Regions from separate parts of the Homo sapiens genome. Here all the other regions are linked to region 7. The links come from fine-mapping of genetic effects on gene expression. A gene starts in region 7. Each other region holds a variant in brackets. All regions are shown on one strand. Distances are from middle to middle.

What was found.
Region 1: its variant is fine-mapped to the expression of PTGR1 in fibroblasts (GTEx, PIP above 0.99). The same link has a PIP of 0.9 or more in breast and subcutaneous fat.
Region 2: its variant is fine-mapped to the expression of PTGR1 in aorta (GTEx, PIP above 0.99).
Region 3: its variant is fine-mapped to the expression of PTGR1 in spinal cord (GTEx, PIP 0.99).
Region 4: its variant is fine-mapped to the expression of PTGR1 in whole blood (TOPMed, PIP above 0.99).
Region 5: its variant is fine-mapped to the expression of PTGR1 in lymphoblastoid cells (TwinsUK, PIP 0.95).
Region 6: its variant is fine-mapped to the expression of PTGR1 in hippocampus (GTEx, PIP above 0.99).

What each region holds. Positions count from the first base shown.
Region 1 is chr9:111,429,098-111,433,450 of GRCh38, reverse strand. It overlaps ECPAS (Ecm29 proteasome adaptor and scaffold), which reads left to right. Exons shown (of 50, transcript NM_001364929.1): 8 at 79-218; 9 at 2,823-2,904. Among named protein-coding and RNA genes, the nearest start is that of ECPAS, 53 kb to the left of the region's middle. The variant C/T (reference allele first, on the strand shown) is at 2,122.
Region 2 is chr9:111,577,061-111,581,060 of GRCh38, reverse strand. It overlaps PTGR1 (prostaglandin reductase 1), which reads left to right. Exons shown (of 10, transcript NM_001146108.2): 7 at 2,110-2,265. It also overlaps a transcript of ZNF483 not described here. Among named protein-coding and RNA genes, the nearest start is that of PTGR1, 21 kb to the left of the region's middle. The variant T/G (reference allele first, on the strand shown) is at 1,897.
Region 3 is chr9:111,038,377-111,042,729 of GRCh38, reverse strand. It overlaps LOC124902248 (a long non-coding RNA gene), which reads right to left. Exons shown (of 2, transcript XR_007061732.1): 2 at 1-3,275. It overlaps LPAR1 (lysophosphatidic acid receptor 1), which reads left to right and starts at 4,260. Exons shown (of 6, transcript NM_001351411.2): 1 at 4,260-4,353. The variant C/A (reference allele first, on the strand shown) is at 2,320.
Region 4 is chr9:111,519,204-111,523,556 of GRCh38, reverse strand. No RefSeq gene overlaps it. Among named protein-coding and RNA genes, the nearest start is that of ZNF483, 3.8 kb to the left of the region's middle. The variant AAGTG/G (reference allele first, on the strand shown) is at 2,491.
Region 5 is chr9:111,313,945-111,318,297 of GRCh38, reverse strand. No RefSeq gene overlaps it. Among named protein-coding and RNA genes, the nearest start is that of OR2K2, 14 kb to the left of the region's middle. The variant T/A (reference allele first, on the strand shown) is at 2,475.
Region 6 is chr9:111,143,985-111,148,337 of GRCh38, reverse strand. No RefSeq gene overlaps it. Among named protein-coding and RNA genes, the nearest start is that of LPAR1, 110 kb to the right of the region's middle. The variant G/A (reference allele first, on the strand shown) is at 2,306.
Region 7 is chr9:111,597,354-111,601,685 of GRCh38, reverse strand. It overlaps PTGR1 (prostaglandin reductase 1), which reads left to right and starts at 2,039. Exons shown (of 10, transcript NM_001146108.2): 1 at 2,039-2,083; 2 at 4,254-4,332. The coding sequence starts at 4,264. RefSeq lists an enhancer at 1,616-2,188.

The DNA of each region.
Region 1 (4,353 bases), 170 kb after region 7:
GATATGTTAAGCAGTACTTTCAGTGGGTGTCCTTTGCTCCCCTGACTGTTCTTTCTCCTTCCCTTCATTTATCTACAGTGCAAATTGGGAATCGTGAAATTCATAGAAGCTGAACAGGTGCCTGAACTTGAAGCTGTTCTCCACTTGGTGATTGCCTCTAGTGATACACGCCACAGTGTGGCAACGGCAGCAGACCTGGAATTGAAAAGCAAACAGAGGTAACTACTTCCCTGTAAACTTTCAAGATTGAAAGGACTACATTTCTAAAAACTTACTTGACACATTTTTTGTTTAAGGATTTTTTGTAATGAGGCATTCAACTTAGAGGAGATTATTAAATATACCTAGTTTGTAATCAAGTTTGCTAAAGAGTTGAATTCTGTGTAAGACAGAGAAGAAAATCTGTGTGGAGATGCTGTTTATAGCTGCAATAGGTTAGGAATGTCATCACAATCAATGAGACTTTTGGCTAGGTAGATGAACTTAAAGAATTGATGTTAAGAAAAGTGTCAGTTCCAAGAAACTAATTTTTATTTTTTTCTGTGTCTCAAACCATTCGAGATTACTTTTAATAAAGACTATGTATGTATTATGGTTAATACAGTGAAAATTACATTCATGAAAAGAGTTGCTGAATAGATTCTAATTCACACACGAGGAGATACAGATAGGAAATAGACTTATAGAAAATATTCTGTATAAGAAATAAAGTCAATGAAAAATAAATGAATGAAGTCAATGAAAAATAAATGAATGGGATACCAGTAGCAGTGGTTAAACCCATTTACGTTTCTATTGAAACTGCGATTTTTATTTTTATTTATATATTTATTTTTTGAGACAGGGTCTCTCTCTGTTGCCCAGGCAGGAGTGCAGTGGCACGATCTCAGCTCACTGCAACCTCCACCTACCAGGTTCAAGCGATTCTCATGCCTCAGCCTCCCAAGTAGCTGGGACTACAGGTGCTGGCCACCATGCCTGCCTAATTTTTGTATTTTTGGTAGAAATGGGATTTCACCATGTTGCCCAGGCTGCTCTCGAACTCCTGAGCTCAGGTGATCCACGCAGCTTGGCCTCCCAAAGTGCTGGGATTACAGGCGTGAGCCACCACGCCTGGCCAAAACTGCTATTTTTATACCCTGTTGATTGGCATTATAAATTGAAATGAAGTTTTGGAAAGCAGTTTGCAATAAGTAATGAATCATAAAGATATTTCTATCCTTTTATCTCAATATTCTGGGAATTTATCCTAAGGAAATTATTCAAAAGCAGAAAGAGATTTAGAAAAATTTTATAGATTTGTTCATTATATCATTTTCTATCATTGTTAAAATATGAAAACAAATTCAGTTTTCCATAATGGGGATATAGTTAAGTAAATTACTGTATGTATCTTTATGGAATATTATATATTTGCCAAAATATGAATGAAGTTAATTACTACTAAGTTTTTAGTTTGTTTTACTAAAGTGTTTGTTTTGTCTGAAATCTCTAAACCACAAGTATTATGAAAGAAAAGCAACGGCGGAGCTTGAGGATTAGTTAGTAGCAATCAGCTGAGGAAAGATGTAGGTGAATCATATCTAAAACAGAATTGTAGAATGCCTCTGAGGATAGCGGAATTGTGGCTATTCTAAGAAGAAGCATATTTATAAACTATGAAAGAAGATAAATCCAAAAAGCAGTTAAAGTAGCTTCATCTGTTGTGTTTGCACAAACACAGGATAGCTTGAAAGCAGAACCAATGTCAAAGGGCAGAGAGAATATAGTATGGTAAACCAGTCAAATGAAAGGAAGGATTACATTATTGCTAGGTTTATGAAATGAGTGGGTGGGATCTGCTGCAGAGGGTGGGAACGAATCACCAATCATCTTTTTTTTTTTTTTTTTTCTGAGACAGAGTCTAGCTCTGTCACACAGGCTGGAGTGCAGTGGCACAATCTCGGCTCACTGCAATCTCCCCCTCTCGGATTCAAGTGATTCTCGTGCCTCAGCCTCCTGAGTAGCTGTGATTACAGGTGCACACCACCGTGCCCGGCTAATTTTTGTATTTTTGGTAGAGATGGGGTTTCGCCATGCTGGCCAGGCTGGCCTTGAACTCCTATCCTCAGGTGATCCACC[C/T]GCCTCGGCCTCCCAAAGTGCTGGGATTGCAGGTGTGAGCCACCATGCCCAGCTGTCACCAATCACCTTATATCTGAATTCACCTTATTGTGGGGCCCAAATAGAATTAAGTCTTAGTGACTGATAGCATAACTACTCTGCAGAATTAAAACTGCAAGTGTGTACTGGTAGATAAGGAAGGAGGGGGATGCTGGGAATCACAGTGACGTTAGAGAAATACGGTGGCTTGCAAGCTTCCTAGATGTGGCTTTAATTTCATGGGTAAAAATTTTTTTGTCACTTTCCTTATCACTTTTGAACTGCCAAATGGTTAAACAGACGAATCCTACCCTGCCCCAGGCCTCTTTGAACAAGTGTAGTAAAGCTCTGCTCTGTTGGAGTTGCTCCATGCCATTGGCCTGAGAACCCATCTATGTAGGAACAGTGTCCAGTGTTCTTGTGGTACCAAATTGTGCCATTGGATACAATAATCTGTTGAGTCTGGGTGGGATAAGTGATTTGTATTTGTTTTGGTTTAAAAACATACTTTGATAGAAATTAGTCCCTTTCTTTTCCTTCTCTTCTACAATGTCAATTGCCCATTTCATTTGTGTGTTTCTAACATTTTCTTTTGTTAAGAAATGTTGGGGCTATAATTTTTTTGAAATCACTGAAGGAGGGGGAAAAATAATTTTAACAACCTGTGTTGAAACCTTCCATAGCTTAATTGACTGGAATAATCCTGCCATCATTAATAAGATGTACAAGGTGTACCTTGGAGATATACCACTGAAGACAAAAGAGGTAGGTTGTTTTGATTTATTCTCACATCAGCGTAAAAAGTAGTTTGTTGACATGAACTGCGTATTTATACATTTTCTTCTAGTTTCATTTAAGCTGAATCTGTGCTATAACAAAATGCTAGTTTTAAGTCATGCTAGTTTAGATGAATTAAAACCTGGTAATTTAGTTTACTGGATCTTGTGTTGTAAATTCAGATTCCTAAATAACAATGACAAACTGTCTAGAGTAGGGATTGACAAATTTTTTCTGTAAATTTTGTAGGCTTTGCAGGCCTTATGGTCTCTCAGGTTGCAGCTGCTGAACTCTTGTAACATGAAAGCAACTATAGGCAATACATAACCGAATGAGCATGGTTGTGTGCCGGTAAAACATTGTGGATACTGATGTTTGAATTTTGTGTAGTTTTCATATATTACAAAATATATTCCTTTGATATTTTTTAACCATTACAAAATGTAAAAATGATGCTTAACTCATAGACCTTATCAGAATAAATGGTGGGCCAGATTCGGACTGTGGGCTATAGTTTGCAGACTTCTGGTCTAGAATCTAGAACAAAAGATAGGTCCTTCTAAAGCCTCAAAGTAAGACCTTTGCCTTACTAACGTGAGTTCTTTTTAGTTCACTGTGTTTAAAAGTATTCCAGGTCCAAACCCAGATATACAAGGATTATTTGTTTGCATGCTTGCATTCTTGCTCTTTTTTGTTTGAGTTGGGGTTTAGCTATGTTGCCTAGGCTGGACTTGAACTTCTGGGCTTAAGCTGTGCTCCTGCCTCAGTCTCTTGAGTAGCTGTGACTACAGGTGCACACCACTGCACCTGTCTGCCTTTTTGCTTTTTAAACCATAAATACTTGTTTTAAAAATCAATATTAGCCCTGGTTAGATTAGATTGAGTGTGGTAAAGCAGAAATAACAATGAATTGGGAATCAGGACCTATGAATTCTAGCCCCAAATGGCTGTACACATGAATGTGCTGGGGAGGAAAGGTTTGGCTGATCACATAACTTTTCCTGGCCTCATGTTCTTCATGTAGAAAATGAAGGGGTTGGATTAGATTAGTGGTTCTCACAGTGTGGTCCATGGACCTTTTTAGGGTCACAAAACACCTTTTAGGCAGTCTGTGAAGGCCTTTTCTTTTTGTACTGTGTCAATATTTGCACTCATGGTACAAAAGCAATGGTGAGTGTACTTGCTAGGTTCCTACCACATATCAAAGCCATGTCACCAGATGACTAACAGTTATTCTATTCTTCAGTGTTATGTACTCATTTAAAAAAAAAAAGAGAATAAAACTCAGCTTTACTTAAGAACATCCTTGATGAAGCAGTAAAAATGACTTTACTTGAAGAGTAGACAGGCAAATTATAGCTACCGAGATGGGTATTTGGTGCATACTTTCTCTAAAAGGGAAAAAAATGAGCTTGTTACTTCAAGAAAAACAACATG
Region 2 (4,000 bases), 20 kb after region 7:
ATCCTTTTGAATTTCACTGAGAAACTTGAAACAGTATGAACACATCTTTTAAAATATCTTCTCTTCCCTGTAGAAATTCCACTGGAGACTGCCATGCTAAGGAATTTATACTCAATCCTTAAAGAAGTAACATGATTGGTTCTGCTTTTTAGAAACATCACTTAGGCCTTGGTAGGAGAATAGTTCCTAGGGACGCTATGCTAGAAACAAGAAGTCCACTTAGGAGGCTCTTACAATAATTCAAATGAAAATTTTGATGCATCGACAAAGATTGGAAGTCAGAGTCAGCTTTTTTTTTTTTTTTTGAGATGGAGTTTCGCTCTTGTTGTCCAGGCTGGAGTGCAATGGTGCGATCTCAGCTCACCGCAACCTCTGCCTCCCAGGTTCAAGCTATTCTCCTGCCTCAGCTTCCCGAGTAGCTAGGATTACAGGCATGTGCCACCACGCCTGGCTAATTTTGTATTTTTAGTAGAGATGGGGTTTCTCCGTGTTGGTCAGGCTGGTCTCGAACTCCCGACCTCCGGTGATCCACCCACCTCAGCCCCCCAAAGTGCTGGGATTACAGGCGTGAGCCACCGCGCCTGGCCCAGAGTCGGATTTTAAGGCTGTTTGGTTAAAAAAGAGGAAGAAAACCAGATGATTGGACATGGATCATAAGACAAAGGAAAGCTTCTCCTTTGAGCCATGTTTCAGGTTTGGATAACTGAGTGGTATCATTCTCTTATAATAGTGGATAGAAAAGAAATAAGTAAGAAGCAAGGAAAAAAGTATATTCCCTTTTGAACACACTATTTATGAGGGACCTACAGGACATCCAAGTGTGAGGACATCTATAGGTTGTTGGAAATACTGATTTGGAACTCAGGAGAAAAAAAATGGGCTAACATTAATAGATAGAATTAATAGATTAATTAATAATCTGCATAAAGGAGGTCATAAGAGTGAAAGAGATCATCCTATGATAGTCTATAGTCTTAGAAGGAAAAAGGACCAAGGAGGGCTCTCTTGCAATAGTTTTTTCTGGAATCATGAAGGAATGGAAAAAGCCTGTGGCCGTCACTATTTGTACAGAGATTCATGTAAATCCAACTGGGGTTTTTCCTCGATTGAAAATGCACAGTGGCACATATTCTGGTCTTCATAATACATTTAGAGTATAAGGGAGCTTTCTGAAAAGCTAGTTTCTATGAACCACTATAATCTGTAGTGTCATCCTGAAAGTGCTTTTCAGAATGCTTCCTAGCTCCTCTGTGATTAGGAAGCGTGTAGTCTGGTGCTTTGGACTAAATCAAAGGATAAAGGGGGCCTGGTGCAGTGGCTCATGCCTGTAATCCGAGCACTTTAGAAGGCTGAGGCAGGAGGATCACTTGAGCCCAGGAGTTCAAGATCAGCCTGGGCACTTTAGGAGGCCAAGGCAGAAGGATCACTTGAGCCTAGGAGTTCGAGATCAGCCTGGGCAATATAGTGAGACCCTGTCTCTGTGAAAATTTAAAAAATATAAGGCCAGATGTAGTGGTATGCACCTGTGGTCCCAGCTACTTAGGAGGCTGAGGTGGGAGGATCACGAGCTTAAGAGGTCAAGGTTGCAGTGAGCCATGTTCGTGCTACTGCACTCCAGCCTGGGCAACAGAGTGAGACCATGTCTCAAAAAAATATAAACATTTAAAAAATCAAAAAAGGATAAGGGGGCAGTTACTAGGAGGGCTGTCTGTGATGTGGGAGTCACAGAGCTGAGACAAAATAATAGTCTGAAGAATGACTGTACCAAGAGATGGCATACACTGCATTGCAAGGAAGAGAAGCCCAGAAACAAAGAACCAAGGAAGTCAAATGGATCGGTTGTGAAACCAGCTGGTGGAACTATGAACCAAATAAATGCAGAAGGGACCTGCTGGG[T/G]GGTCAGAAGCAAGCTGAAGCTGAGTTGTAGGATGGTCCGGGGACTGATTTCACCTATGGGATCTGTTGGCCCATTATGGTATTCCTTTTATATGTGGCTCAGCACCTAAGAGAGTGTTCCTAGGGAACCTAGGCATACGAGACCAGGAAAGTAGTGTTGGTCCATGCTTGTGACTTATTCATGGTTTCCTTTTTTTTTTTTTTTCTACTTAGGGCTGCAAAGTTGTTGGAGCAGTAGGGTCTGATGAAAAGGTTGCCTACCTTCAAAAGCTTGGATTTGATGTCGTCTTTAACTACAAGACGGTAGAGTCTTTGGAAGAAACCTTGAAGAAAGCGTCTCCTGATGGTTATGATTGTTATTTTGATAATGTAAGTACAAACTGGACTTAATATCTAATTTATTATGGAAGTACTATATAAAGCAGGAGTCTCCTACCCCTGGGCCATGGATGGTTAGTGGTCCATAGCCTATCAGGAACTGGGATGCACAGCAGGAGGTGAGGGGCAGGTGAGCAAGCAAAGCTTCATCTGTATTTACAGCCCTTCCCCATTGCTCCCATTACTGCCTGAGCTCCGCCTCTTCTCAGAACAGTGGCAGCATTAGATTCCCATAGAAGTGTAAACCCTGTTGTGAACTATGCATGTGAGGGATCTAGGTTGTGCGTTCCTTATGGAGATCGCACTACTCAGGTGCCTGATGATGCCTGATGCCTAATGATCTGTCACTGTCTCCCATCACCCCCAGATGGGACCGTCTAGTTGCAGGAAAACTCACCCACTGATTCTATGGTTATGGTGAGTTGTATAATTATTTCATTGTATATTACATTGCAATAATAATAGAAATAAAGTGCACAATAAACACAATGTACTTGAATCATCCTTGAAACCATCCCCCCAACAATCGATGGAAAAATTGTCTTCCAATGAAACTGCTCCCTGGTGCCAAAAAGGTTGAGGACCGCTGATACAAGGGAATATATTCCTAGAGTTTCCATTTTGGGGTACATGAAGAAAGTATATATGCCTTTTTTAAAAAACAGCTTTATTGAGATATCATTCATGTACCATGTAATTCACTCATTTAACGTGTAGAAGTCAATGTTTTTTACTATATTGGCAAAATTGTACAACCAGTTTAAGAATATTTTCATCACCCCCCCCAAAAAACGCTACTCATTAGCAGTCACTCTCCATTACCACCCTCCTCCCCACTAAAAGTGGTCTCTTATGACTGGCATCTTTCACTTAGCAAAATGTTTTCAAGTTTCATCCATATCATAGAATTTATCAGTGCTTTATTCCTTTTTTTTGTTTTTTGAGACAGGATCTCACTCTGTCACCTAGGCTGGAGTGCAGTGGTGTGATCGTGGCTCACTGCAGCCTCGACCTCCCTCGCTCAAGCAATCCTTCCACCTCAGCCTCCCAAGTAGCTGGGACTATAGGGATGTGCCACCACACGCAACTAATTTTTATATTTTTAGTAGAGATGGGGTTTCGCCATGTTGCCCAGGCTGGTCTGGAACTCCTGGGCTCAAGCAAACCTCCCAACTCGGCCTCCCAAAGTGCTAGGATTACAGGCGTGAGCCACCACACCCAGCCTGATGGGTATTAGCTTATACTTTCTGGCTATGAAGTATAATGTTACTATGAACATTCATGCAGAGGTTTTTGTGTGGATTTTTCATTTCTTTTAAGTATATACCTATGAGTAGAATTGCTGGGTCATATGATAATTTCATGTTTAACATTTTGAGGAGCTGTCAAACTGTTTTGCAAAGTGGCTACAGTACTTTACATTCCCACAAGCAGTGTATGAGGGTTCCAACTTCTCTACATACTCACCAACACGTGCTATTGTCTGTCTTTTTTATTATAACCATCCTAGTAGGTTTGAAGTGATATTTCATTCTGATTTGAGTTTGACTTGCATTTCCCTATGGCTAACAATATTAAGGATCTTTCAACGTATGTATTTGCCATTTGTATATCTTCTTTGGAGAAATATCTGTTCAAAATCTTTGCCCATTTTTGAACTAGGTTATTTGTGAGGTTGTAAGATTTTTTTTTTTTTGAGACAGTTTTTTGCTCTGTCATCCAGGCT
Region 3 (4,353 bases), 560 kb after region 7:
GACCCTTTCTATGATTTCTTTGTATCCAGATCCATTTTTAGCTTTATAGTTGTATATATAACACACATATATTTTTTTCCTTTTCCTTGTCTTTCTTCACTCTGTTTTAGATCTAAGCCTTTTTTATTTTGGATGAGGGAGACTACAGAGAAAGGATCTGCTAGCCTTGACCTACTTCTGATGTTACCCAGAGTATTCATGCAGATGTATGTGATAAGAAAAAGGTGAACACAGAGTTACTCTGTTTGGGGCTTTCATTGCAGCCTAGTCCTTGCAGGAGGCTGCTGCATGCAAACCCAAATTCTCTCCATTCTTGGAATCTCCTTATGCCACCTGCACTCTGAAGAGTGTTATTATTATTACTTTTTACTAAATTGGGCTGCCCCACCCACCTTTGCCGCTGGACTTTTAAAATAGAAAGGTTTCCTAAGGAGAATGCTTTTTTTTCCCCCCTAGCCAAGGGGAAAAACACTGGAGAGGCACAAATACCCCATTTCAAGGAGGAAGAAAACTATGCCTGGAGGCATCATCTGCAAAACTTTCCGGAAAAGGCTGAGTTCTCTCAGGGTATTGTTTCACCAAAATACTGTCTTTGAATCAGTCTCTACCTTAATAGACTGGAGGGAAAGTTTCCAACAGATCGTTTTGCTGATAGTTTTGATTACTCTCGAACAGAAAATTTCAAAAGCTTTTTGCCAGAGGGAAGCGAACAGAGGGAGGAAGAGAGAACTCTTCCATGAGTGTGCCATGACTGGGGAACCTTTTGAACAAATAATAGTGCCAAAGGCAGTGACAGCCAATTTTTCCACCCGAAATGCTTCTCAAATTATAGTCCTTGGATCACTAGCTTATATCAATAGTCTGACAAAGTCTATGGTGTCCTTCCAGATATTAATGTAAAACCTGAACTTGAAATATCCATCACAATGTTTCATTTTGCTGAACTTTTTCTGAGACACAGTCTTGTTCTGTTGCCCAGGCTGGAGTGCAGTGGTGCAATCTTGGCTCACTGCAACCTCTCTCTCCCAAGTTCAAGAGATTCTTATGCCTCAGCCTCCCAACAGCTGGGACTACAGGCATGCACCACCATGCCGGCTAATTTTTATATTTTTAGTAGAGACAGGGTTTTAGTAGAGACAGACATGTTGGCCAGGCTGGTCTCAAACTCTTGGCCTCAAGCGATCTGCCCACCTTGGCCTCCCAAGGTGCTGGGATTACAGGTGTGAGCCACCATGCCTGGCTTCATTTTGCTGAACATACATATATATTTAAAAATTTTAAAACTTTTTAAGAGACAGGGCCTGGCTGTTGCCCAGGCTGGAGTGCAGTGGCACAATGGCAGCTCACTGCAGCTTCGAACTCCTGGGCTCAAGCGCTCCTCTCGCCTCAGCCTCCCAAAATGCTGGGATTACAAGCATGAGCCACTGTGGCTAAGAATATTTTTTGTCATGTTTGACAGCGCCAGCTGTCTTTGGGTCTTTACCTCTGCTGAAGTCATTTGAAGAAACAAATCTAAAGAAATACTGCTTGGCAGAGGGGAGGAGAGAAAGGTTAGGACAGAAAGCATCAGGATGACTCTCCAAGAAAGGGAATGTCTGAATGACAAGAGGACTACAGACAGGAGAAAACATTCAAGAAAATTTATCAAGGTATTCTTTGTTCCTGTTGAAACCTCATCATCAATGTTAGTGTCTTCAGAAGCCCACCCAAATATATTATTTTACTTTGATAAAAGACAACTTGGAACCATATAAAAGACTGCACTGGTACCATTATTCCATTTTACAGATGAGAAAAGTAGCTCATTTGGAACATAATGAGCTAGGTTTTATGGATTAATCTAGATGCTGAACTGAATTCTGTATTGTATTTCATTTTCTCTGTCCTTTTCTACTGGATGTACATACCTACATTTAATTTTAGAGTTATCGATCTAAAGCTGGCTGCAGAAGCTGTCTCATTTAGACAGGTCCACGCTTGTCAGGAAGACAGGTCTGTCCAGGCAGACCTTTCAGTTTGTTCTATATTTCATTTCAGGCCACAGCAGACCAAATAAAGAGGAAATGAAGTGTTTTATAGCAAATAACTTACTGTTGAATACACATGTCTTGTACGGACAGGCCTCCCAATTTGATGTTAGAAGGGGCCACAGAGTAGTTAAGATAGTCAAAACAGAAGCAACTGTATTCCTTAAGAAGGTAAGAGACAAAATCAACATATTAAAAATATTCAAGTTGAGTGGTAGGTAAGAAACTCCTTTTACTTTACCTTTGATTTATGGGGAAAGGCTAAACATGGAAATAATTAATTTTAAAATGT[C/A]TTTATATTAGATATAGAAGTATTGGTGTTAAGAAATCTGATAGTAAGTACAGTGTATAGGAAGAAAGAGACGGGAAAATTAGCTAATAAGTGATTTTTTGACTTGAGTAGAGCTATGGTTAAAAATATATGGAAACCTCTTTCGAGTATATTTTTTTCTTACCAATATATACTTTTTATGATACTGAGATTTTATAGTGAACATTTGCCTATTCATCCCAATATAATATTTCTTATAGTTTGGTATCAACCCCTATGATTATTTGTGAGATAAGGGAGTGGTTTGTATTCATGGGTATACATATCTATACACATTTCTGCATGCCGTACACAAACATAAGTAGCATTGTGCATGAACATATTAGCACTGTGCATGTACTAAAATTTCAATTTTTTCACATAGTAGGTTATAAAATAAATCATATATTCGTAGGAAAGGTATAGAAAGCAAAGTTATTTAAAGTGGATTTTTAAAAAAGATTTGAATGATTTTTTTTAAAAAAAAGATTAGAACCATTGTTTTTAAAAGGAAACAGCTTTAGATAGTAAATTATTTACAGCCAGGACTCAGCCCTGAGCATCCTGTGAAAACCACACGAGCTTGGTCAAGGTTCTAAGCAGTCACCGGTGGGAGATGGTCATGGTCCCGTCACAGCATAACTCACTTGAGGCTTGAAAAGTTTCCGTCCAGCTACGGTTTGCAGTGACCTTTCTCTTCTGCAAAGCCCACGGTTACCTGGTGGCCACCACCAACATAGCCCCGCCTCGCTGTCCTGCGTTTCTCTCAATCAGATCAGTCCTGCCGAGTCCCCATGCCTTACTGCTGGTGTGCTGTGTCCTCTGTGCCATTTCAAGGCGAGGGCTCATGAAACTTTTACTCACACGCTGCTATTTTTGATATGCGGTGGCCTTAGCTGTGGAGCGAGAGGCCGATAATTGTGATCACTCCGGAAATCCTGGGAAGCCAGAAGTGGGAGATGGGTGTTGTGAGGTGGCGTGGCTAGGGAGACCCCATCGAGTGGGTGTGTTATAAGACCTGGGCGAATCCCTGTGGCTGCCACTCTCCTGAGAATGTTCCCTAGGCCTTAGTCCCGCGCCGCTCCCACCCACACCTCCAGGTGTGCAGTCCCCGCCCTTAATTACTCTCACTAAAATTGATAGTTTACACTTGCAAAGCTACACTGGGAAAGCGGAAGAGAAATTTATAATCGTGGATATGGAGAACTAGGGGAGCAGACACACTTGCTTTCGTTTACAGATCCAGTGAAGTGAAAAATCAGAACTAGAAACGTATGCACCTTCCTAGCAGCAAAGCCGCTTCTGCGTTCTTCGCAGCCTCCAGTGCAGGGCGGCGCTGGGAGAAACTTTGCGCCTTCTGGAAAGTTTAGAAAGTGAGCCACGAAAGAGAGGCCACATTTCCGGGGTTTTGCGGGCCCCGCGATGTTTTCCAGAGCTTTTCGAGTGGGAAGAGGAGAGCGACAACGTGAAAATGCCCCGTGCCGGGGCGTCCACCGGAGTCCTGCCAGCTGTCCGGCGCTGGGGTAAGCGCAGGAGGGGCGGGGGTGGGACCCGAGCTGGCGGCCACGGGTCTCCCGCTGCGGGTGTGTCGACTCGGGGGCGGGGCGGGGGAGGCTGCTGAGATAATGAATGGGAGGCTAAGGCCACCCCCCAGCCCCGGCCCTGCCACCACCGTGGGCTGTCGAGCCAATGAATGGAGGAGGGGGCGCAGAGGTCAGGGGCGCTGGGGGCGCCACACCAGGTAAGGGGTCCAGCTTGGGAGCGGGGAGGGCGGACTCTGGGGGTTCGGGTGTTGCTGACTTGTGCTACGTGGAACAAGCAGAAAAGAAGGAAGGCGGAGGAAGAGAGGAGGCTGGCGTCGGCGCTGCTCCTCTGGCCCTCCCTCTGCGCCCCCTCCTCCTGCCAGCGCGCCAAAGCCGGGCAGTAGGGGCCGACTGGCGGCTGACGCTCCCTGAGTGGCGACTCCGTCTCCAGCCCCGCTGCGGAGCGCGGGCCGGATCTGGGGCGGCCAGGGCC
Region 4 (4,353 bases), 78 kb after region 7:
ATTCTCCTTTACCCACCTCCCCTTGGCTGGCTTTAGACGCATCAGGAAGAAGCTGGAGAAGGCAAAGGAATAGGAAATGTCTATTGGCTCATTATTTTAACCAGGCAAGTCAGAGGCACTTTACTTAGTAAAGCTTACTCAAGCTTTACTGTACTTTAGAATCACATGGTGTTCTTTATTTGAATACAGATTTTGGAACCTTCTGGCCCTCCCCACCCATCAACTTGTTGCAGGTGATCTTGTATTTTGAGAAACACAGTACTAGTTGAAATATTCTGTAAGTAAATGACATGCTACCTATGAATAAATTACCAGGAAAGAATGGCATCTTTTTGGAACTGGTAGTCAAACTATAACTTTTGATTAAAAGTAACCATCATGGTAAGGAGTGATGGACTGTGCATCAGGAAGGAAGCAGGAAACTACAAATCAGTTCCACTGGTAAGCAAGCTGGTGGGATCTCTAAACAGGAAAACATACTTAGGAGAACTTTAAGTGAGCTGTTTGTTTGTTCGTTTAACTGTTCTGGTTTCAGTATGGACAGTAGATTAGAAAGAAGTAACACCAGAGATAAAAAGACTTTGTCTTATCATAATCCAGGTAACATGATGGTGACATAAAATGAAGGTGGTTTAAAAGGTGATGGAAGGGCCGGGCTGGTGGCTCACGCCTGTAATCCCAGCACTTTGGGAGGCCGAAGTGGGCGGATCACGAAGTCAGGAGATTGAGACCATCCTGGCTAACGCGGTGAAACCCCATCTGTACTAAAAATACAAAACTTAGCCGGTCATGGTGGCGCCTGCCTGTAATCCCAGCTACTCAAGAGGCTGAGGCAGGAGAATCACTTGAACTCAGGGGGGCAGAGGTTGCAGTGAGCTGAGATTGCGCCACTGCACTCCAGCCTGGGCGACAGAGTGAGACTTCATCTCAAAAATAAAAAAAAAAAAAAGAAAGAAAGTAGAATCCTACAGTACATATTCTTCATATATTATGACTTCTTTCATTCAACATTATGTCTGTGAGATTTATCAATATTGTTGCATGTGATTATACAGTGTTTATTTTCATTGCTGCATAGTGTTCTCCTATGATTTTTTTGTGTGTATTTGTTTTTTTTTTTTTTTTTTGGAGACGGAATGTCGCCCAGGCTGGAGTGCAGTGCAGTGGTGTGATCTCAGCTCAGCTCACTGCAATCTCCACCTCCCAGGTTCAAGCAATTCTCCTGCCTTAGCCTCCTGAGTAGCTGGGATTACAGGGGCTCACCACCACACCTGGCTAATTTTTGTGTTTTTAGTAGAGATGGGGTTTTGCCATGTTGGCCAGGCTGGTCTCAAACTCCTGACCTCAGGTAATCTGCCCACCTTGGCCTCCCAAAGTGCTGGGATTACAGGGGTGAGCCACTGCTCCTGGCCTGACCTGTTATTTGTATTAACATTTCCTGTTTTCTTAGACCCTTGCCCAGCCTCTGTTCCCGTACACAGAGTTGGGGAGGAAGTATGTATGATTGTTTGTGTATCTGAAGGGGAGAGTCTGTCTAATTTTCCTGTCTTCTTTCTTTTTTTCTTTTGTTTTTTTTTTTTGAGACGGAGTCTAGCTCTGTCACCCAGGCTAGAGTGCAGTGGTGCGATTTCGGCTCACTGCAACCTCCGCCTCCCGGGTTCAAGCAGTTCTCCTGCCACAGCCTCCCAGGTAGCTGGGATTACAGGCGCCTGCCACTGCGCCCGGCTAATTTTTGTATTTTTAGTAGAGATGGAGTTTCACCATCTTGGCCAGGCTGGTCTTGAACTTCTGACCTCGTGATCCACCCGCCTCGGCCTCCCAAAGTACTGGGATTACAGGCGTAAGCCACTGCGCCCGGCTTCCCTGTCTTCTTTCTAGACTCACTCCACTTTAAAGAAACTGAAGACCCAAGGTCCTGCCCACCCCTCCCCATATCCTATTTTTTCAAAAATGAGACCCAGCGCAGGGAGGGGCTTGCCCAAGGTCACTCAACTGGTAGATTGGAAACTGACTGGCTCTGAGCCCAAGGCTTTTAGGAGAAAGGAGCACATCTTCCCCATCTCTAGAGGGAGGAGGACAGGCTGGGACTCTGATCAAGGATCTAAAACAGGTGTTTTAAAACTAGTTGTTAATTGCCAAACTGTCCAAAAGAAATATTACAGATGAAAGAGGTGCATTCCTGATTGAAGTCCTGGCTTCCCCACCTAGCAGCTTTGGAGTTATCTCCTTAAGACCCTCAGGGCTCTTGTGCATCCACTTTGGAGGCCTCTGAGCTCTAAAGGTTTGAGCTGCCTCAAGGACACCAAGTCCTTGTTTCCAGGTGCCTCCAGTCCTGGTTTAACTGGGACTCCAAAGATCCCAGAGCCACTCTAGGGGAGCTGACCCTCTCCTGAAAAGAAATAACAAAAAATTCCTCCTGCCTGGCTCTGTAGAGCCACAGAGGGTGGTATGTTCCAGAAAGAAAGAAAGAAAGAAAAAGAAATAGCAAGC[AAGTG/G]AGCTACGAAGCTCCCGTAAGGATCCACTAGAGAGAAAGGGGATGAAGACAGAGAGTGTGGGAATATGCTGTAGAGTGAAGACTGAGAAACTAGGGGGAAGCACAAGTGGAGAAATTAGCTTTAAACTGCCAGAGCCAGCATGCAGTGTTCATTGTAATAGCAGGGAAGGAGGCAAAGAAGGGGGTAGATGCAGTTGGATTTGGAACTGGTATCTAATGGATCCTGCTGAGATCCACTATTGGGACCTCCCCAGAAGGGAGATACGGGTGGGATCTGAAGCTTGATAAGAGTAGATTAGGTTTGGCCGGGCGTGCTGGCTCACACCTGTAATCCCAGCACTTTGGGAGGCCAAGGCAGGCAGATCACGAGGTCAGGAGTTCGAGACCAGCCTGGCCAACATAGTGAAACCCTGTCTCTACTAAAAATACAAAAAAAAAATTAGCCGGGCATAGTGGTACGCGCCTGTAGTCCCAGCTACTTGGGAGGCTGAGGCAGGAGAATCACTTGAACCTGGGAGGTGGAGGTTACAGTGAGCTGAAACCACGCCATTGCACTCCAGCCTGGGTGACAGAGCCGAGACTCCATCTCAAAAAAAAAAAAGAGTAGATGGCTGCTGGGAGAATATGAGTTGATCACAAAAACACAGAAGGATTTCCCTGCAGTGTTAAGGGCCCATTTGAGGTTAGAAACCCCCATTTTATGTTACATCAATATGTACATTAAATGATTTTTCTCAAGGTACACAACATAGCTCCAGAATAGGTACAGGGAAGAGGGACAGTTGAATTGATCCAGGGGATGGGGGTTGTAGCATAAGTTTGACAGGAGGACAGTGGGATAACCAGTTGAGGATATGAGCAAAAGTTTGTTTAAAATGATTTATGATGGAGTCCAATTTAGGTAAGGAAGATGAAGATAAGAGTTAGTTAACATAAAAGAAGAAAAGAGAGCTGGGCATGGCGGCATGCGCCTATAGTCCCAGCTTCTCAGGAGGCTGATGCAGGAGGATTGCCAGAGGCCAGGAGTTCGACACCAGCCTGGGCAACATAGTGAGACTCTGTCTCTTAAAAAAAGAAAGAATGAGCCAGGTGTGGTGGCTCACGCCTGTAATCTCAACACTTTGAGAGGCCGAGGTGGGTGGATCACTTGAGCCAGGAGTTTGAGACCAGCCTGGGCAACATAGCAAGACCCATCTCTATAAAAAATTTTAAAAATAGCCGGGCATGGTGGTGCATGACTGTGGTTCCATATACTCAGGAGGCTGAGGAAGGAGGATCTCTTGAGCCCAGGAAGTTGAGACTGCAGTGAGCTCTGATTGTGCCACTGCACTCCAGCCTGGATGACAGAGTGAGACCCTGTCTCTAAAACAAAAAAAGAAAAAAAAGAATGAACGAATGAAAAAGAAGAAAGTAGAGAGATTAAAGGACAAGCGAAATCAAAGCATCAAAGCTTAATAAATAACGTACTTATGGCCGGGTGCTGTGGCTCACACCTGTAATCCTAGCACTTTGGGAGGCTGAGGCAAGTGGATCACCTGAAGTCAGGAGTTCAAGACCAGCCTGGCCAACATGGCGAAACCCCATCTCTACTAAAAGTACAAAAAATTAGCCAGGTGTGGTGGCAGGCACCTGTAATCCCAGCTACTTGGGAGGCTGAGGCAGGAGAATCGCTTGAACCCGGGAGGCGGAGGTTGCAGTGAGCCGAGATCACCCCATTGCACTCCAGCCTGGGTGACAGAGCAAGACTCTGTCTCAAAATAATAATAATAATAATGATAATAATAATGTACTTATAAAGTTAAATATATACTTACTATATGACCCGGCAATCCCACTTCTAGGTATTTACTCATGAAAAA
Region 5 (4,353 bases), 280 kb after region 7:
TCCTCAGGGATCTAGAACTAGAAATACCATTTGACCCAGCCATCCCATTACTGGGCATATACCCAAAGGACTGTAAATCATGCTGCTATAAAGACACATGCACACGTATGTTTATTGCGGCATTATTCACAATAGCAAAGACTTGGAACCAACCCAAATGTCCAACAATGATAGACTGGATTAAGAAAATGTGGCACATATACACCATGGAATACTATGCAGCCATAAAAATGATGAGTTCATGTCCTTTGTAAGGACATGGATGAAATTGGAAATCATCATTCTCAGTAAACTATCGCAAGGACAAAAAACCAAACACCGCATATTCTCACTCATAGGTGGGAATTGAACAATGAGATCACATGGACACAGGAAGGGGAACATCACACTCTGGGGACTGTTGTGGGGTGGGGAGAGGGGGGAGGGATAGCATTGGGAGATATACCTAATGCTAGATGACGAGTTAGTGGGTGCAGCACACCAGCATGGCACATGTATACGTATGTAACTAACCTGCACAATGTGCACATGTACCCTAAAACTTAAAGTATAATAATTAAAAAAAAAAAAAAAAAAAGCAGCTATTATAACCATGCTCCAGGTCGTAAGGGCAAGCATTCTTAAAATGAATGAAAAGTAAGAGAACCTCAGCAACGAAACAGAAGTTAAGAAAAGAAACAAGTGGAAATCTTGGGATTAAAAAATACAACTAAAATAAAAAGTGTACTTAATATGCTCAATTATAGAATGTAGATTACAGAAGAAAGAGTCTGTGAACTTGAAGACAGATGAACAGAAATCATCCAGACTAAATAACAGAGAGAAAAGATTGAAAAAATATGTCTGAAAAACTAACACTTATCTTCCAGTTGTTTTTTGAAGAAAAAAATGGTAATCCATGGCTGGGTGCGGTGGCTCATGCCTGCAATCCCAGCACTTTGGGAGGCCGAGGCAGGCGGATCACCTGACGTTGGGAGTTTGAGACCAGCCTGACCAACATGGAAAAATCCCATCTCTACTAAAAATACAAAATTAGCTGGGCATGGTGGCCCAGCTACTCAGGAGACTGAAGCAGGAGAATCACTTGAACCCGGGAGGAAGAGGTTGCAGTGAGCCGAGGTTGCGCCATTGCACTCCAGCCTAGGCAACAAGAGTGAAACTCCTTCTCAAAAAACAAAAAAGGTGATCCATGAAAAAAGTGATGGATACTCAAACAAAACAACTGAACAAATGCTTTTCCTCAAGGTGATTATGAAACTTCCAGATGCAGCAGAGCGGCATCCTTCCCATTTTGTCACAGTGACTATTAAAAACACATGTGCTCAAAGGTCAAGATTTAATAATGTTATTATTTTTTTTACTGCTTCATCATGTATGCTTAAGTGAAACTGGATTTTTTTTCTATGAGTGCATTATGATGAAGAATACAATAATTACTAGTATAGTTAGGTGCTAGTGCTTTTATTTCTACTACAGTGCCATCAGTTTTATTCACCATTGCTTTTGCAACCACTGAAAATATCATCAAGGTAAAAAAGTAAGAGAAACTTTTTTTTATAATTATAAATATTGTTTTGACCTCACAGAAAGGGACTTGAAGACTTTCAGGGGTCTGCATACCATTTGTGTTAGTTTTCTATTGCTGCCATAACAAATTACCCCAAACATAGTGGTTTAAACAATACAAATTTGTAATCTTACATTTATATAGGTCAGAAATCTGACATGAGTCTCAATGGACTAAAGTCAAGGTATGGGCAGAGATGTATTCCTTTTAGTAGGCACTGGGTAGCAATTGTTTCCTTGCCTTTTCCAGTTTCTGGTGGCCACCCACATTTCTTGGCTTATGGCCCCTTCCTCCGTCTTCTAAGCTTTCTCATATAGCAACGCCCTGACTCTGCTTCTGTCACCACTTCTCTTTCTCTGACTCCCTCTTATGCCCCTCTTGTCCACTTTCAAGTCCTCTTGTGATTGCACTGGGCCAAGCTCGATCATCTTTCTGTCTTACGGTCAGCTGATTAGCGACCTTAATTCTATCTTCAACCTTACTTCTCCTTTGCTGTATAACTAAAATATTCACGGATTCCATGGATTAAGACATGGACATCTTTAGGGGCCATTATTCTTTTTGCCACAACTTGATTTCAAAATAACTGCAGCAAGAAACAAGAACATTCAGAACTTTTGGATTTCTGAACACTGATTCACAGCTTACTCCAATTCCCAGAGACCCAGAATGATACTGCACTATATGTATCTTTCTCCATGGGTCAGGCTAGAGTGCAGTGGTGTGATCATAGGTCACTGCAGTTGCAAATTCCTCGGAGCTGCTTCTTCTGTTTTTTGAAATAATTTTAGAGGGTTGGTGTTACTTTTGTTTTTACTCTTTTTTTTTTTTTTTTTTTTTTTGAGACGGAGTCTTACTCTGTGGCCCAGGCTGGAGTGCAGTGGCGCGATCTCGGCTCACTGCAAGC[T/A]CAGTCTCCCGGGTTCACGCCATTCTCCTGCCTCAGCCTTCCGAGTAGCTGGGACTACAGGCGCTGGCCACGCCCGGCTAAATTTTTTTTCTTTGTATTTTTAGTAGAGACGGGGTTTCACCGTGTTAGCCAGGATGGTCTCGATCTCCTGACCTCGTGATCCACCTGCCTTGGCCTCCCAAAGAGATTACAGGCGTGAGCTGCCGCGCCTGGGTGGTGTTAAACATTTTCTTAAATGTTTAGTAGAATTCACTAGTGAAGCCACTTGGTCCTGGGATTTTCTTTTTCTGCAGGTTTTTGATTTTTAGTTCAATATCTTTGTTACTTACAGGTTGGTATAGATTTTCTGTTTCTTCTTGAGTCAGATTTGGTAGTTTGTGTAGTTTCCAAACTGGAAAGGAAGAAGAAAAATTATCTCATTAGGTAGATGACATGATGTTATGTAAAAAAATTCTAAACAAGTGACCAGAAAAAAAAAAAGAAAAGAAAAACAAACTATTAGAGGTAATAAATGAATTCAGCAAAGTTATAGGATCTAAGATTGATGTACAAGAACCAGTGATGTTCCTGTAAATTAGTAGTGAACATTCTGAATAGAATAAAGAAAACAATTTCATTTATATAGTATCAAAAAGAATAAAATACTTAGGAATAAATTTGTCCTAGGAATTGTAAGACTTGTGTGCTAAAAACTATAAAATTTTTGAAATTAAAGACCTAACTAAATGGAAAGATATTCCATGTTCAAGCGCTGGAAGACTTAAGATACTCCCCCAAAGTGATACTCCCCAAAGTGACCTACAGATTCAATGCAATCCATATCAAAATCCTAATGGATTTTTTTCATATGAAATTATAAAGGACACCAAATAGCCAAAACAATCTTGGAAAAGAAGAGCAAATTTGGAAGACTCACACTTCTCGATTTCAATATGTACTATAGAGCTACAGTAATCAAAACAGTGTGGTACTAGCATAAAGATAGACATATAGGACAATGGAATAGAATTGAGAGTCTAGAAGTAAATCCATACATCTGTTGTCTATTGGTTTTTGACAATGGCACCCAGAACATTCAATGGGGGAAAGAATAGTCTCTTCAACAAATAATGTTGGAAATGCAGGATATCCACGTGCAAAAGAATGAAGTTGCACCCTTACCTCATATTATATATACATATATATAATTCACATTATATGTAAAATTCACATTATATATAAAATGCACATTATAGATATAATTCACTATATATAGTGAATTATATATGATATATTTATTATAACATATATAAATATTATCTAATATTTAAATTAAAATATATTTAAAATAAAATAAATATCAATTAACAATAAATTAAAATATATAATATACATTATATATAATGTACATAATAAATATAAAATTATATTATATAAATAAATATATAATTATTATATAACATATAACAAAATAATATATACTATCATATATAATTATATATTATATATGTAAATATATATATTATATATATAATTAACTAAAAATAGATCAAGGACCCAAATGTAAAAGCTAAAACTCTTGGAAGAAACAGAGGGGTAAATATTTATGACTTTGGCTACAATAATGGTTTCTTAGATATAACAGCCAAAGCCCAAGTAACAAAAGAGAAAATAGATAAATTGGACTTGATCAAAATAAAAGACTTGTAACATCAAAGGATACTATTAAGAAAGTGAAAAGGAAACTCACAGAATGGGAGAAAATGTTTGCTAACCATAAATCTAGGTCCTGGATTTATGCTAATCATAAATTAGATTCTAGTATATAGAATATGTAAAAGCCCCATAACAAAAAGAGAAACAATCCAATTAAAAAGCAGGAAAAGGGCAGGCTTGGTGG
Region 6 (4,353 bases), 450 kb after region 7:
TCATACTCCAGATTAGGTAAAGTAATTGAAGGTGAACCTTGTGATGTTCACAGTGTTAGCAGTATACCGAAACAACATAGCCTGTTCTGTTTTTGAGAGAATGAAGCTGTAACGCCAAATATTTAAAACGGTCAGGAGTGGAGGAGGTCACTGGAGGCTAATATAGCAATGTAATATAGTTACTGCCTAATTTATTTAGAGTTCGGCCTGAGGATGTGAGTTGATTTCTTTTTCCCTCCAGCATTTTATTATCCAAAATTTTCAAACATATGACTAAGTTGAACAAATACTATGATGACCACCCCCTATGCCCATTATCTACATTGTATTATTAAAATTTTACTATGCTTGTGTTGTCACATATCTATCCATCTAACAGTCTTTCTATCCACCTAACAGTCTTACTAGCCATCCTCTTTTTGTTTATGCAATTCAAAGAAAATTGCAGACCTTAATATACTAACGTTACTATTTTGTATCATGAGTATCATCAAGAGTTAAATATTCGTTTATAATTTTTTTCTTTTGATGTAAAATGTACATACAAAGAAATGCACGAATCTTCATGTTAATTTCCTCAGTTTTAACAAATGCATCCATTGGTGTAGCCCAAACCCCTATTAAGATATAGAACATGGCTGAGTGCAATGGCTCATGCCTGTAATCCCAGCACTTTGGGAGGCTAAGGTGGGCGGGTCACAGGGTCAGGAGATCAAGACTATCCTGGCTAACATGGTGAAACCCCGCCTCTACTAAAAATACAAAAAATTAGCCGAGTGTGGTGGCCCGTGCCTGTAGTTCCAGCTACCTGGGAGGCTGAGGCAGGAGAATCGCTTGAACCCGGGAGGCGGAGGTTGCAGTGAGCCGAGATTGCACCACTGCACTCCAGCCTGGGCAACAGAGCAAGACTCTGCTTCTAAAGAGATAAATAAATAAATTAATTAAAATAAAATAAAATAAAAATAATAAATAAGATATAGAACATGACTTTTGCCCAGAAAGTTTCTTTTGCTCTTTCCTAGACAATGTTTCTTCCTCCCCCAAGGTTAACCACTGTGATTTTTTTCCAAGGGAGCTTACTTCCTGTAATGGGGAAACAAGTGAGCCGACACGACAGCTGCCTGGGCCTCTAGTCATGGGGGTGCTGAAGCATTATTGGGATTGTAACTGATGGACAAAATCTTAATTAGCACTACTGTCAGGGAGAGTTCTGTAGGTGGCTGGAGGGTGTTTGCTTAGATAAGCACTCTGGATGGATGGAATTGTCTTCTAGGAAGCGTGCTTGAGTCATAGTTGATGGGTCTCTGGTCCAGGGACAGTGCAGAAGAGGCTGAAAATTGTGACCCTGGTCCTCCCGGTACAGCAGCACTTAGCCTCGTTTTTAAGTAAAGGTCACACACAGACCTAATAATCTCTATTTGAAGGGACACAAATGATTAGCCTACCTTTAGTATCAAATTACTGGCCCATAAAGATCCCCAGATGTCTCTGGGCATGAAGTGAAATCAAAACGTGGCAATTTTGTTCATGTCACTTTAATTACTAACAGGGAGACAACACACCAGGTCTTAACTCATCCATTTGCTACAGAAGGCTTAACTGAGAAGACTGGAAATGGGGAGGAAGAAAGGGTGGAGTTATAAATTCACAGATGGTAGACTCTGGACATTGGAAAGGGATGGGCTGGAATCTGAGGAAGACAGAATATTCTCCCCTTTCTCTGTTCCTTTTTTCCCAGGGAAGGTCCAGGAGGGTCTGTGGTTATCATGAATTGGTGAAATTTCAGATTCTGATATTTTCTCTCGCTTTCTTTGCTACTATTTTCTGCCACAGGTCACAGGATGACCAGACCACTTCACATAATTCTATTTTAAGCTTGCCCTGTATGGACAGGCAGGCTCCTTAGTTTTTTCAAAGGGTGATCTTTACCTGGAAATAAAAATGTATGCAGTTGCTCAGTATTAGGGCACTGCCCTTTTTCTTCTGGAGGTTTATCATTCATGTATCCCACAAGACTATTCTCTTTTTGGTATTCCTCCTTAAAAACATTCACATGGCTGAATCAACATGATATGTAGGTCTCGGGATTCTGAGCTCTTTAGAAACACCTGTTGGGAGGGCTGAAAATGGGACTCTGTGGCTACCTGGCTGCCACATATCCCTAATTACCTTGAGGATTTTAGTTTATGGCCCAAAAAACCGTGGGTGCAAATAAGAGACTTCATCTATATTTTCACACATAATTTTTCTTATGAAAGTAAATTCACCCTACCAAAAAAAGTAGAAAAATTCATAACCTGTCACC[G/A]TAACAACTGTCATTAGCATTTTATGTTAGCTCTCCATATGTTTTATAAATTTGACATAAGCTTATTACCTCTGTATATTTTACATTGTTTTTACATCTATTCAATCAAGAATTTTCCCAGGTTGCATCTTTAAAATCATGATTTTTCTAAGAGTTCCGAAATATGTCGCTCAGCTAACATGTGATGGGATGTTTAACTGTTTCCTATTCCTGGGCATTTTAGGTTATCTGCATTTTCTGCTGGTATAAATTGCACTGTGATGGACACTTTTTTTTCACATAACATTTCCATGTGTTGGCACTTGTGTACAAGTATGAAAGGCAACTGCTGCTAGGAGCTATTACTGTTTGCTAAGGAAGATGTAAGCCCTACCCTCAACCTACATAAGAATAATAGTGAAGAGTGCATAGTAAAGAACAATTAATGAAGGCTAAGTAATAAATAGATAGTGAAGATAGTAGAATGTCCCACTGGTGCAGTGGTGGGCTCCTCTCCATTCTATCAGGAACCCTGAGCCATGGGAGTGTGTTTTGCAGAGAACATACTATTGTCCTCATGCTTTTTAATATTGTAAATTATTAAATACTTTTAATTGCTTAGAACATTATTGGCTATTTTGCACTCATGTTGCTGCCTGTTTTGCTCATCTCTTCAAGTTTTTATGTGATTCCAAAACTTTTATACTGTGTTAATGGTTTAAATAACATGTTTTTCCTTATCACTATTAATCAGTGTTATTCCTATTAATATATTTTTGTTTATTATTCCAAAGTTTTAAGGCATTTTTGTTAACCCATATTTACTTTTACTTTTTTCATGCTTTCCTCTATATTTTTTATTAATTTAAAATGTTCCCATTAAGTAGAATTAGAAGAGTTACACAAATATTTTGTGGCTCTCTGTATATATTACTATGTAGAAAGTTGCCACATTTGTTGTAGCTTCATCTATATTTAGCATTTTCAAAAAAGAAGTTATTAATATCATGCATTTAGAAATAGAGCTTTAAAACAGTAATCGTAGGCGGTGCAGCAGGAAGACACAAAAGCATCTGGAAAAGTAGATTCTGTCTCCTTGAGTGCCTGTGACAAGAATTTATTGGTTTGTAATCCAAAGGTTCCTGGCCTCTACAGTTGTCAGAAGTAGCACTTCCCTTTAACTCTAAATGAAAGGATCCATGCCCTCATTATGTCTGACCACAGTCCCAAGGTCTCTGAGACTCCCTGGAGAATATACCCATGTCACCAGGTCAGTCCTGGTTTTTACTGTGTGCTTCGGCCAGCAGCCCCACTCTGGCCTGCATCTCTGATCTTTGGATAACAATGTATTATTTCTTCACTGGCTTCCTTAGGCCATGATTACTCTCCCTATACAATTTCATTCCAAATATGCACATGGGCCTATCAATTAATACTCAGAGCTCAGCTAAGATCAGGCTATAACAATTAAACGAACTCTACTAACAATACAAGAGAACAAAAGGAGATTTGCCATATAAAAGAAAATCCTGGATACTAAATATGAACATTTCCAGAGTTCACAAGCCAAAACCGATTCCTCATTCCTAGGATCCTCCAGAGAATCTATCTTTTTACTCTCTGTTTGCAAGTTGCAGGAACTGGTTCACATCTCCTAATAGTGGGTCTTTGACCTTGCACCCTTCAAGGGAGTCCAGGCCCCTCTGTTCTTCCAGGACCCAGCCAAGGGAAAGATCCATTGTCCCCTCACTACCTTTTAGCCCAATATCCTAACTTGAAAACAAATAAACATCCTGCAACGTCTGTTTCTATAAAAATAAAAAAGAAAACAAACAAAAATATGTAGGTAACATCAATTATCTATAACAAAGCCTCCGTAAATTTGAAAGAGTAGACACTAAAATACATAAAAAGATTGATTTTTAAGAATATATTAAGCAAAACACTTATCCTAAGGAAATTCTAAAAAATATGAAATTTCTTGATTCAAAGTACTATATTGAGTCAAGTATTCAAAATTGAAATATAACTACTAAAAGTGAAAATGAGAATAATATGTGATCAAATAG
Region 7 (4,332 bases):
ACTTTTTATGCCTGCAATTTTATTAACACTTCTAATATCCAAAAGAAACAGTGATTCTGTAACAAGTTATCTTAAAAGAAAAAAAAAAGAGAGAAGCAGAATGCGATATGTAACCCAATACCGTTTCTATAAATTAAATGTATATGACCACAGTGCACATTATGTAAGAACATGGAAAAAAAAACTGTATGCAAATCAAATACATCACAGTAGTTACCTATAGTAGGAGGAGAAAAGCAGGAAATTGAGTTTTTTTGGTTTTCTTTTGAGACGGGATCTCACTTAGACACCCAGTCTAGAGTGCAGTGCCACGATCGCAGCTCGCTGCAGCCTCCACCTCCCAGGTTAAAGCTATGTTGCCCACGCAAGTCTTGAATGCTTGGCCTCAAGTGGTCCTTTTGTCTCAGACTCCAAAAGTGCTAGGATTACAGGCATGAGCCACAGCACCCAGCCTGGGAATGGAGTTTTGTTTTATATTAAGTTACATAAATTAATGAGAAGGGAGAGAGTGAGAAAGAAAGAATTTGGCAGACCAGTGGGGATAAAGTGCCACCAACTCTGATTAGTGTGAAGAATTCAACTCTCGGCATTGTGTTTTTAGGGTCCATCCAAGTTGCTTTATGTACATGGAACCCAGTGCTTCTGATGCTGTGTATATCCTGTGGCATGCGTCCACCACGCTTGGTCCACACACTCTGTTATGGGCTGAACTGTGTCTTCCCCAATTTCATGTGTTAAAATCCCCAAGTCCCAGTACTCAGAATGTAACTGTATTTGTAGATAGGGCCTTTAAAGAGGTAATTAAGGTTACATGAGGCCATATTAGTGAGCCCTAATCCATTTGACAGTATTTGAAGACAAGGCCTTCAAAGACGTGTTTAAGTTAAACGGAGGCTGACAAGTGGGGCTCTAATCCAATATGGCGGGTATCCTTACAAGGAGAGACATTGAGCCAGGTGTGGTGGTGGGCCTGTAATCCCAGCTTCTAGGGAGGCTGAAGGAGGATCACCTGAGTCCAGGAGTTCAAGGCTGCAATGAGCTATGATGCCCACCATTGCACTCCAGCCTGGGTGACAGAGCAAGACCTCAAAATAATTAAAATTAAATAAATAAATTAAAGACATTGAATCTTCACAATGACTGGAAGTTAGGCATTCTTCTTATCCCCATCTTGCAGATGGCTGAACTGAGTGAGGCAAGGAGAAGGTAAGTAAGTCTTTGAAAGCTACACCACTAGTAAGTGGCAGGTGCAGGCTTCGAACCTGCAGTCGTCTAATACCAACGACTTAGCTTCACGTTCAACCCCTGCCTGAGACCACCTCTCCTTGCAGAAGCCAGGTCAAGGCCTGATGTTTGCTAGGGTGTGATGGGTGGGGTGCCTCAGTGGCAAGAGTGCTCACTCCTGCCTGGGGGAGTCTGGCAAGGGTTCACAGAGGTGACCTTGAATTGGCTGGTGGAAGGCGAGTAGGTGTTCAGCAGGCGGACTGGGGACAGACAGGCAGGGTGTCTGCACCGCAGCCCTGGGCGAAAGCTTGCACTGCGGGCAAGCGGCAGGGCTGACGGGGAGCCCAGGGATCGGAGCCAGCACCGGGGGCTTATTAGGGCTGCGGCCGCCCCAGGCCCTGCCTTTGGACCCTTCCGGCCTGCTTGGCAGATGCCACGGTTGGTTCCCCCACGGGGCATATTTCCGCCGGGCTCCAACTTAGGACCCCAGGCGGAGGTCCAGTGTCAGCTGGACAAAGCTCTGTTAGGAATTTTCCTATCAGGAGTCCCTAACCCCCTACACGCACACACACGGGCGCGCGGGCGCGCACGCACACACACGCACACATGCACACATACGCGCGCGCACATGCACATAGGCACACAGAGATACGCGCACACACACACACAAACGCACTCAGATTTCCCGGACCCTGGTTTTCCTCCTGTGACCCTTTCGGGGCCGGGCTCTCACCCTAAAGAAGCAGCCCCGCCCTGGGGTGGCCCCACCCTCTCTTGGGACCTGTCATAAGTCGGACCCCGGGCGCCCGGCTGCGCAGTCCCAGCCGCCTTCCCCAGGCAGTGGAACCTTCGGGCTCCTGTAAGTAGACCTCCTGCTTTCTTTCCTTCCCTTTTCTCCCTCCTCTAACCCCCTTGCTTTCTTCCTGCCAAGTTTCTAGACGCCCCAGTGGAGGAGGTTTGCTCTTAGACCTCCTCCCCTTACGTCGAAATGACCGCTGGGTCTTGCACTCGGAGGATCTTGGGAGCCGACGTCCCGACGCCTCCCGCCCCCGCAGTTCCTTGGAGAGCTTGGAGCCGCGCGCCGGAGGGAATAGGAAAGCTTGGTTACAACCCGGGACACCCGGTAGCTTCCTGCACCCGGGAGGGGGCTGGCCAGGGAACTTGCTGGACTGCACAACTGGGGGAGGGTAGAAGAAGAAAGATCGGGGTGGGGATTCGGGAATGGGCAAGCGGGCGGCGGGCGGCGGGAGGCGAGGGTGGGAGCAAAGGGCGAGCGGGCAAAGGCCGGGCGCCGCGCCAGGCCCCCTCCTCGGGCGGGCGAGACTTTCCCGGGACCTGGCCCCTCTGCGGCCAGACCCTTTCCAGGAGGGCTTCTGGACTTGTAGCGAGTTTGGAAGCCCAGCGGTTGCTTTTTTGGGGAAAGGGACAAAGATGTGTGAACTCTAAAGAAGTTGAACTCATAGAAATAACGACTAGAATGATGGTTGCCAGAGGCTGGGAGCGGGTTCGGGGGGGAATGGGGGCTTGTTGGCCAAAGGGTACGAAGTTCAGAGACGAGAGGAGTAGGTTCTGAGATCTGTTGCACAGCAGAGTGACTAGAGCCAATAATGTGTATTTCGAAATAACAGAGTAAACTGCAAATGTCTCACCGTAAAAATGATACGTAGGGCCTGGCGCGGTGGCTCACGCCTGTAATCCCAGCACTATGGAAGGTCGAGGCGGGCGAATCATTTGAGCTCAGGAGTTCTAGACCAGTCTGGCCAACATGGGGAAACCCCGTCTCTACTAAAAGTACAAAAATTAGCTGGGCGTGGTGGCGGGCGCCTGTAATCCCAGCTACTCAGGAGGCTGAGACAGGAGAACCGCTTGAACCCGGGAGACGGAGGTTGCAGTGAGCTGAGATCGCGCCATTGCACTTCAGCCTGGGCGACAGAGCGAGACTCCGTCACAAAAAAAGTCTTAATTTTAAAAAAAGAAAAGAAGGAACAACCCCGGGCTGCAGATCAGACCGCCCCCCTGGCTCCCTCGCAATGCGGGAGTGCTCCCTCCAGGTCACCGTGTCCCCTCCCGCGGCACCGGTAGGGGAGCTGGGGAGATCACTGGCAGCTCCAAATGGTTTCGTAACTGGATTGTTTGTAGCGGATGCACCCGCGGGAAGGCGCAGGTCCCAAGTGATTCGGCAGAGTTCAGTCCAAGCAGAACATCCTGAACCCCCAGCTCGGGGCAGCCTTCATCATCTTCCCTTGCTTTGGTGCAGCGTTTCAGCTCAAAATCGGTTTGGTGTGGAGTTTAAACTCAAATCCCTACTGGGCCAAAGAAAATTCGCACCCGATGGCTGAGTGCAAGTGGTTCACACCTGTAATCCCAGCACTTTGGGAGACCGAGGCGGGCGGATCGCCTAGGCAACACAGTGAGGCTCCTCTCTACAAGAAAAGAGAGAAAAAAAAGTATTTAAAAAAAAAAAAAACGCACCTGAAAATGGGGCGGAGCAGCGGCGCCCTCCGGTGGTTTTCAGGAGTTCTGAGACTGCCTTGAAATGCGTGGCTGTTTCCATCTGAAAGAGGTGCATGGACTTCTATCTATTGGGTTCTTTGTGTTTGATGCTTTTTCTTAGAATTCACTCCATGTGAGATGAGAAACGGAATGGAATATTCGCACTTCCGGTAACTGTTCAGTGCCGTAGAGAAACTCTAGCCTAGCAGTGGCTGGGAAGAATTTCTTTGTTGTTTTATATTTTTTCCTTGTCTTGAAGATTTCTTTAAACCTCAGTTTCCTCATCCGTACACTGGCAATGATACTAATGTCTATCTTATAGGGAAGTTATAAGGATAAAATGAGGTAATCTATATGAAGTGCTTAGCACAGCACCAGAAACATAGTAAATGTTAAATGAATGTGGTTGGCATGATATGATAATGATGGGATTTGAGGATATTGTAATTGTGCTGTCTGGTCTCAGTTTGACGGCTAGAGAACTGTTAGAATGCAGTCACTTCATGGCAGTTGACTACATATTTACTGTGTTCTAGGAGCTTCAGGATGGTTCGTACTAAGACATGGACCCTGAAGAAGCACTTTGTTGGCTATCCTACTAATAGTGACTTTGAG